Regions from separate parts of the Homo sapiens genome. Here regions 1 and 2 are each linked to region 3. The links come from fine-mapping of genetic effects on gene expression. A gene starts in region 3. Each other region holds a variant in brackets. All regions are shown on one strand. Distances are from middle to middle. Region 1 overlaps MFN2 (mitofusin 2). Region 2 overlaps MFN2 (mitofusin 2). Region 3 holds the start of KIAA2013.

The links. PIP is the estimated chance that this variant, and not a neighbour inherited with it, causes the effect.
Region 1: its variant is fine-mapped to the expression of KIAA2013 in whole blood (TOPMed, PIP above 0.99). The same link has a PIP of 0.9 or more in monocytes.
Region 2: its variant is fine-mapped to the expression of KIAA2013 in whole blood (INTERVAL, PIP above 0.99).

The regions. Positions count from the first base shown.
Region 1 is chr1:11,984,397-11,987,182 of GRCh38, forward strand. All of the region lies in intron 2 of MFN2 (mitofusin 2), which reads left to right. Among named protein-coding and RNA genes, the nearest start is that of MFN2, 5.3 kb to the left of the region's middle. The variant G/A (reference allele first, on the strand shown) is at 1,636.
Region 2 is chr1:11,991,685-11,994,470 of GRCh38, forward strand. MFN2 (mitofusin 2) reads left to right here. Exons shown (of 19, transcript NM_014874.4): 4 at 871-1,006. Among named protein-coding and RNA genes, the nearest start is that of MFN2, 13 kb to the left of the region's middle. The variant T/C (reference allele first, on the strand shown) is at 1,523.
Region 3 is chr1:11,925,120-11,927,820 of GRCh38, forward strand. It overlaps KIAA2013, which reads right to left and starts at 1,308. Exons shown (of 3, transcript NM_138346.3): 1 at 86-1,308. The coding sequence starts at 1,118. RefSeq lists enhancers at 252-914, 915-1,578, 1,233-1,527 and a silencer at 1,163-1,232.

The sequences.
Region 1 (2,786 bases), 59 kb after region 3:
TTGTTGTTATTGTTTTATAACATGTAAAGCTGCCTTTAGCTCTTACTGTAGTGAAGCATGTTGCTTGCGTCATCAACTTTAGTCTTCTCACAGTTTAGATGGTATTGTGGTATTAGGATATTGGTTTTCATCCACGGATCCAGGCTCATAACTCCTATCCACAGCCCTTGTTATGGTTTTTTGATATAATGTTAGATGTGTTAGGCCTCAGGGGCAGGCCTCTGACCTTCTGCTCTCCTTCCACCCTAATCTTTCCCCACCTGATTGTGGGCCTTAAAACCCTCCCCTGAGAGGGGTGGACCCTGTATCCTGGGGGAAGGAATGCTGATGTCATGAAGCTTCCATAAAAATCCAAGAGGACAGAGTTCAGGGAGCTTGTGGATAGCTGAACACACGGAGGTTCCTAGAGAGAGGCCTGCTCAGGGAGGGCACAGAAACTACACGCCTCTTCCCCCATACCTCGCCCTAAGCGTCTCCTTATCTGTATCCTTTGCGATATCCCTCATAATAACCTGGTAAACGTAAGTAAGTGTTTCCCTGGGCTAGGTAGGCTGCTCCATCAAATTAATTGAACTCAAAGAGGGGGTCATGGGAACCCCAGCCTGAAGCCAGTCGGTGAGAAATTCTGGAGGCCCAGACTTGCAACTGGTATGTTTGAGGGGTGGTGGTGGAGAGGCGGGGCAGTCCTGGGGACTGAGCCCTCAACCTGTGGGATCTGACACTCTCTCCAGGTAGACAGCATGGGAACTGAATGAGAGGATACCCAGCTGCTGTCCGCTGGTTGGTGTGTGGGGAAGAAACCCCCTCACATTTGGTCACAGAAGTCTCTTGTGTTGATGATTATGGTGTGAGAGTAGAGAAAAAAGATAATTTGAGACAGTTTCTCTCTCCAGTAGGTGTCTTGTTTGTTGTACACATGAAGAAACCAAGGTTCTGTGATGAAATAACTTGCTTAAGTTTAAGCAGCCCAGAAATAATGTAGTCACAATTTGAACCCAGCTCTGCCTGATTACAAAACCTGTCATAGGTAGTGCTATATCATGCCCCATCCTTGATCCCTTTTTTTTTTTTTTTTTTTTTTTTTTTAAAGAGAGAGACTTCGCTCTGTCACCCAGGCTGGAGTACAGTGGCGAGATCTTGGCTCACTGCAAATTCTACCTCCCAGGTTCAAGTGATTCTCCTGCCTTGGCCTCTGGAGTAGCTGGGACTACAGGCATGCGCCACCACACCCAGCTAATTTTTTGTATTTTTCATAGAGACGGGGTTTCACCATGTTGGCTAGACTGGTCTTGAACTCCTGACCTCAGGTGAGCTGCCTGCCTCGGCCTCCCAAAGTGCTGGGATTACAGGCATGAGCCACCGTGCCTGACCCCTGATCCCTTTTCTATTCCTTTTGGATGGCTTTCCTCTTGTGCCTGCCACATCCCCTCTTTCTCGAACAGTCTGATCTGCCAGGCCATGGCAAGCCTCATTTCAGCGCACTCTCCTTTGCTGCTTTGGAAGAGTGAGAGTAGCATTTTCTTTGCAGTTTCCTTTCTCAGAGCTGTACTGTCTTTAAGCCCTGGACATATGGCTTCCATGCTGAGAAAACATCTCTCATAGCTGTGGCGTCATGCTGAGGAGGAATGTAGAAAC[G/A]GAAGTGGGGTCACTTCCTTCCCTTGTCTCCAGAGGAATCATTAACATTGCACAAGAACTTGTTGGTTTGGGCACACATGTGGGTCCCTATCCCGCTTTGGGTCGGTCTGTCTTCTGCCCACTCTTTGGGATGGTTAGTTACTAAAAGTCCGTTTTGGCATTTGGTCTTCATGTACCTCTTCCGGGTGTTCTTTCTGCTTTTCAGGACCTTGTGCAACATACTTTGGCCCCATTTGGAAGTTTTTCACGTGTGCTTGCTGGGGAGCAACACCTCATTTCCAATCTAGAGAGAGTGAGCTTACTGCTGGGTGGAGAACTGAGCAGTAAGATTAGGGTGGCTGGGGAGGCAGTGACAGACCCAGGCACAGTCAGCTGTGCACACACCCCCTCATCCAGGAGGGCCTTTGCCCTTTGACTTCCTGGGATTGGTGGGCTCTGCTCAAGAAGTAGCTTTCGCCGTGGTGGGAACTCTGAGGGACCTGGCAGGGGTCCACTTTTGGGGTCGGAATTCCCAGTCTTACCCTGGGCACTCCTTCTGGTGTGTACGCCTCTTTTTGATCTTTTTTTTTTTTTTTTTGAGATGGAGTCTTGCTCTATTGCTCAGGCTGGAGTGCAATGGCGCGATCTTAGCTCACTGCAACTTCCAGCTCCCAGGTTCAAGCAATTCTCGTGCCTCAGCCTCCCGAGTAGCTGGGATTACAGGTGCCTGCCACCATGCCTGGCTAATTTTTGTATTTTTAGCAGAGAAGGGGTTTCACCATGTTGGCCAGGCTGGTCTCAAGTGATCCACCCGCCTGGGCCTCCCAAAGTGCAGGGATTATAGGTGTGAGCCACCATGCCCAGCCTCTTTTGACCTTTGACCAAAGACCTCTAGGACTTTGGAGTCAAGTCTCATGACCTCTAAAATGTTGTTATATGAAAAGATAAGCTACAAAGATATGTAGGATTGAGTGAGAGCAAGAGAGACAGTCACACAAAAATAGACTGTGATAATATGGCTGGGTACGGTGGCTCACGCCTGTATTCCCAGCACTTCGGGAGGCCGAAGCAGATGGATCACTTGAGGTCAGGAGTTTGAGACCAGCCTGGCCAACATGGTGAAGCCCTGTCTACGAAAAATAAAAAAATTAGCTGGGTGTGGTGGTACATGC
Region 2 (2,786 bases), 67 kb after region 3:
GAGGCCGAGGCGGGCGGATCACGAGGTCAGGAGATCGAGACCATCCCGGCTAAAACGGTGAAACCCTGTCTCTACTAAAAATACAAAAAATTAGCCGGGCGTAGTGGCGGGCGCCTGTAGTCCCAGCTACTTGGGAGGCTGAGGCAGGAGAATGGCGTGAACCCGGGAGGCGGAGCTTGCAGTGAGCCCAGATCCCGCCACTGCACTCCAGCCTGGGCGACAGAGCGAGACTCCGTCTCAAAAAAAAAAAAAAAAAAAAAAAAAAAAAGAAGTGACATAGAGTGGTTAAGAGCCTGGACTCCAGAGCCAGGCTGCCTAATTCAAATCATAGCTCTGCCTTTTACTAACTCCGGAGCCATGTTAATAAAGAGGACCAAAGGAGAGAATGAATTTGAAAAGTGAAAGGAACAGTGCCTGGCATGTGGTAAGAACTTCGTAAATATTTGTTAAGAAAAAATAAACAAGGAAGGCAGTTAACATTTAAGTATTCATCTTCTACCAGCCGCCATTCACAGCATTTGTGTTTCAATTCGTTTGATCCTCACGATGTTCTCATGAAGTAGATAATGTAGTTATCTCCGTTTTGTGCTTAAGGAAACTAAGACCCAGAAAGGTTCTTTTGCTTGAGGCCACAGAGCTAGAAAGTGGTAAGAACCAGCTTCAGAACCAGGCAGTGTTGCTCCTGAGCCATCTTCTTAACCACCACACCGTGGGGCCACCATAGAGGATCTGGAGCTCAGCCTGTCGGCTGCAGGGTGCCAGAGGTGGACTCGTTTAGGGTAAGCAGGGCCGGCGCTCTGGCCCTTCCAGACTTGGGACTGTGGAACTCCTCTGACCACGTGGTGACCCATTTTCAATCCCCACCTCCAGACACGTACAGGAATGCAGAACTGGACCCCGTTACCACAGAAGAACAGGTTCTGGACGTCAAAGGTTACCTATCCAAAGTGAGAGGCATCAGTGAGGTGCTGGCTCGGAGGCACATGAAAGTGGCTTTTTTTGGCCGGTAAGTCCTTGAGGCACCCACCCTTTCTTTCTTCCTGGCTAGGAGGGAGGGAGGCACTTTGTGCAAGGTCACAGAACGTTCCAGGCAGGGACATGCTTCAGAATTCATTGCTTTCCTCTTAATTTATATTTTATTTATTTATTTGATTTTTGAGACAGGGTTCTCTGTCACCCAGGCTGGAAGCTCATTACAGCCTCGACCTCCCTGGGCTCAGGTGATCCTCCCACCTGAGCCTCCTGAGCAGCTGGGACTGCAGGTGCATGCCATCAAGCCTGACTTTTTTTTTTTTATTTTCTAATTAAGGTTAAAGGCATATAATATAAAATTTACCACCTTAACCATTTTAAGCATACAATTCACTAGTAGGTATATTTGCAACCAGTCTCAAGAGCTTTTTCATCTTGCAGAACTGAAGCTTGTATTATAGCCATTAAACAATAACTCCCTGTCCCACATGTCCCTTGCCCTGGCCACCACCATTCTACTTTCTGTCCCTATGAATTTGACTATTCTAGA[T/C]GTCTCACGTAAGTGGAATCATACAGTATTTGTTTTTTTTTCTCCATTCATAAAACTTTTATTCCACTTACATGAATTTAATACACGTGTTCTTAACAATTGTGCTTGTATTGTTCATGAAAATTTCGTAAGACATTAAACAAAGCTAGCCATCATCTCAAGTTATTTCCCTGTTAACTATTTTTACAGTGCATGCATGTTAGGCAAGCATCAAAAAAAAATCACAAAAGCAAAGAATCTAAAAATATGCCGGGCATGGTGGCTCACACCTGTAATCCCAGCACTTTGGGAGGCCGAGGCAGGTGGATCACGAGGTCAGGAGATCGAGACCATCCTGTCTAACACAGTGAAACCCCATCTCTACTAAAAATACAAAAAATTAGCCGGGTGAGGTGGCGGGCGCCTGTAGTCCCAGCTACTTGGGAGGCTAGGGCAGGAGAATGGTGTGAACCCCAGGGGGCGGAGCCTGCAGTGAGCCGAGATCGGGCCACTGCACTCCAGCCTGGGCGACAGTGAGACTCCATCTCAAAAAAAAAAAAAAAAATCTAAAAATAAGTTAAATACGTGTTTTTTTTGTTTTGTTTTACTGCTAGCTTGATATACATGAAGTATTCATTTTTCCTGCATCTTTACTTTTACATTTGTTCTTAGGTTGCCTGAAACATTTTAAATACAAATAAAATGAGTGTAGCAAAAATAATGAAAGCTAACAGCAGATAACTTTACAAATAATGGAGTGTGAACCATTTCTGCCCTTATCCAGATTGAAATGGGTCACAACTTTGTTTAAAGGAACACTTCCACAGCTGTAGTCAAAGGTGTGCACATTGAGATTGAGTATTCCACAGACACACATGGTTTAACATGTGATAACCATGGGGTATCTGTTTCTACCACAGCCTTGTAAGTGCTCCAAACCTTAAAGTACCCACATTTACTATACCTGTGACTGGAACCAATGATCCTTTTTATTCCCCACCAGGACAAACCAATATGTAGGCAGTTTTCTTTGCTTTGACATGGAAGCAGTTTTAACACTGGCCCTTGTGAAGCCACAATGTACCTAAAGTACTAGGCCAAACATTTATAACTTGTATAATGACCAGGCACGGTGGCTCACGCCTGTAATCCCAGCACTTTGGGAGGCCAAGGCAGGCAGATCACAAGGTCAGGAGATTGAGACCATCCTGGCTAACACGGTGAAACCCCATCTCTACTAAAAATACAAAAAAAATTAGCTGGGTGTGGTGGCGGGCGCCTGTAG
Region 3 (2,701 bases):
ACCACCCCACCATCACCTTCAGTGTCACCTCTGCAGACTTGGGAGGGACATATCTAGGGTGGACCAAGCGCTGGCCAGGACTCACCTGGGCTGAAGAGCTGAGCCCAGAGGAGCTGGTGGTCTTGAAGCAGCTCCGCCGCTGGCATGTCCAAGAGCTCCAGCATTTCCTTCCGTGCCAAGTCCTGCAGCGCCTTGAGCTCCTTGGCTGCTTTGCTTTTGAGCACCTGGGGGTTAATGGGGCCAGAGACGTGCACCACCCACAGCACCGTCTCATCCAGCTGCGTCTTGGGAGCCACTTGGAGGCGGTTCACCAGCTTCTTGGCGGCCACCACCACCAGGTGCACCAACCCAGTGGGCGTAGGCGGGGACCGGCCTGAGTAGAGGAGGAACTGATGGTCTCCGACCTTCTCCAGGGTACTGGTGAAGGCCTTGGGGGCTGGGCCGGCAGTGGGCCCCACAGTCTGCAGCGCGGCCACGCGCTCCGTGGGGTTGTTGAGCTGGATGCGCTGCAGGTAGACGTGGGGTCGGCCCCTGTGCGCCAGAAAGTCCTCTTGCAGCAGCACGCAGTCGCGGCCGGACCCCGCGGCAAGGCCAGAGACGGAGGCGGGCCCGGGGCCGGCGGCCACGGGGCCAGGACCTGGGGACCCCAGCTGCAGGCAACGCACGCGGCGCAGAAGCCCCTCCCGCAGCAGCAGCACCGCCTCTCCAGCTTCAGCCAGCGCGCTCAGCGGGCGCAGCTGCACGAAGGGCACAAAGTCCGGCGCCACGGCGGGCTCCCGCTCCCCGGGAGTCACCCACAGCCGATTGGCAGCCACGTCCAGGGCCAGGAAGCCGTTGGCCACCAGGGCCGGCACTCCAGGACCCAGCGGTACCACCTCACCGCGCTCCCGCAGGCCGCGCCAGGCGCGGGTGGCCGCCTCCAGGCAGGCAGACGGCTCGGCGGCGCCCGGCTCACCGCGGGACCAGGGCAGCAGGTGCAGGCCGCCCGCCGCCCGCCGCGCGCCGGACCCCCCAAACCACAGAAGCAGCAGCAGGAGGCCAAGCAGGCAGAGGAGGCGGCGGGCCCAGCTGCTCGACAGCAGTCCCGGCAGCCCCTTGAGCCGCTGCTGCAGCCACATCGGGCCGCCAGGCGCGGGCAAGGGTGCGAGGGCGGCCGCCGGGCCCGCCGCCCAGCCCACCGGCCCGGCCGCCCGCGCCTCACTGCCCGGCCCGGACCGCGGCGCCCACCCCGGCCCCCGCCGCAACCGCCGCAGCAGCCGCCACCCCTGCTTCCTCCTTCTTCTCGGTGGCCTCCAGCCGTCAAACGACGCCGGCGGTCAAGCGTCGCCGTGTCTTTTACGACAGATGGAAAACGGGAGGGCGGAGGGAGGAGAGAGAGCAGGCCGGAGAGAAGGGGGCGGAGCCACGGCGAGGGCGGGACAAAAGCTGCCGGGGGCGGGACCACTCGTTCCCAGGCCGGAAGAGTGAAGTCCAGTGGAGTTAAGTGCAGGGGTCTGGGGAGGACTGGAAGCATCCAATTCACTCGTGAAAAAAACATCGAGCCAGCCAAACCGAACACGTGTTGGGCCCCTTTGCTACTGATGGATTCAACAGCCCCAAAATTTAAAAACATACACACACACACACACAACAACTTTGTTTCTGTAAAAATGACCATCCTCTCGCCGCGCGCGGTGGCTCACGCCTGTAATCCCAGCACTTTGGGAGGCCAAGGCGGGCGGATCACGAGGTCAGCAGTTTGAGACCAGCCTGACCAACATGGTGAAACCCCATCTCTACTAAAAATACAAAAACTAGCCGGGCGTGGTGGCGCATGCCTGTAATCCCTGCTCCTCAGGAGGCTGAGGTAGGAGAACTGCTTGAACCCGTGAGGCGGAGGTTGCAGGCTTGCAGTGAGCCGAGATCACGCCACTGCACTCCAGCCTGGGCGACAGAGTGAGACTCTGTCTCAAAAAAAAAAAAAAAAAAAAAGACTATCCTCACTGCAAAAAAACACTTGGAACAATACGAAAAAGTGGAGGAAAAAAAAAGGAGAGAGAAGAAGAGGAAGAAAGAAGAAGAAAGGAAAAGGGAGGAGGAGGGGAAGGGGAACCACCAGAGGCCAGGAGTGGTGGCTCACGTCTGTAATTCCAGCACTTTAGGAGGCTGAGATGGGCAAATCACTTGAGGTCAGGAGTTCGAAACCAGCCTGACCAACATGGTGAAAACCTGTCTCTACTAAAAATACAAAAATTAGGCTGGGCACGGTGGCTCACGCCTGTAATCCCAGCATTTTGGGAGGCCGAGGCCGCCAGATCACGAGATCAGGAGATCGAGACCATCCTGGCTAACACGGTGAAACCCTGTCTCTACTAAAAATATAAAAAATTAGCCAGGCGTGGTGGCAGGCGCCTGTAGTCCCAGCTACTCGGGAGGCTGAGGCAGGAGAATGGCGTGAACCCGGGAGGCGGTGCTTGCAGTGAGCCAAGATCGCGCCACTGCACTCCAGCCTGGGTGACAGAGGGAGACTCTGTCTCAAAAAAAAAAAAATAAATAAATAAAAATAAAAAAATAAAAATGCAAAAATTAGCTGGGCGTGGTGGTGGGCGCCTGTAATCCCAGCTACTTGAGAGACTGAGGCACGAGAATCGCTTGAACCAGGGAGGCAGAGGTTGCAGTGAGCCGAGATCGCGCCACTGCACTCCAGCCTGGGCAACAGAGC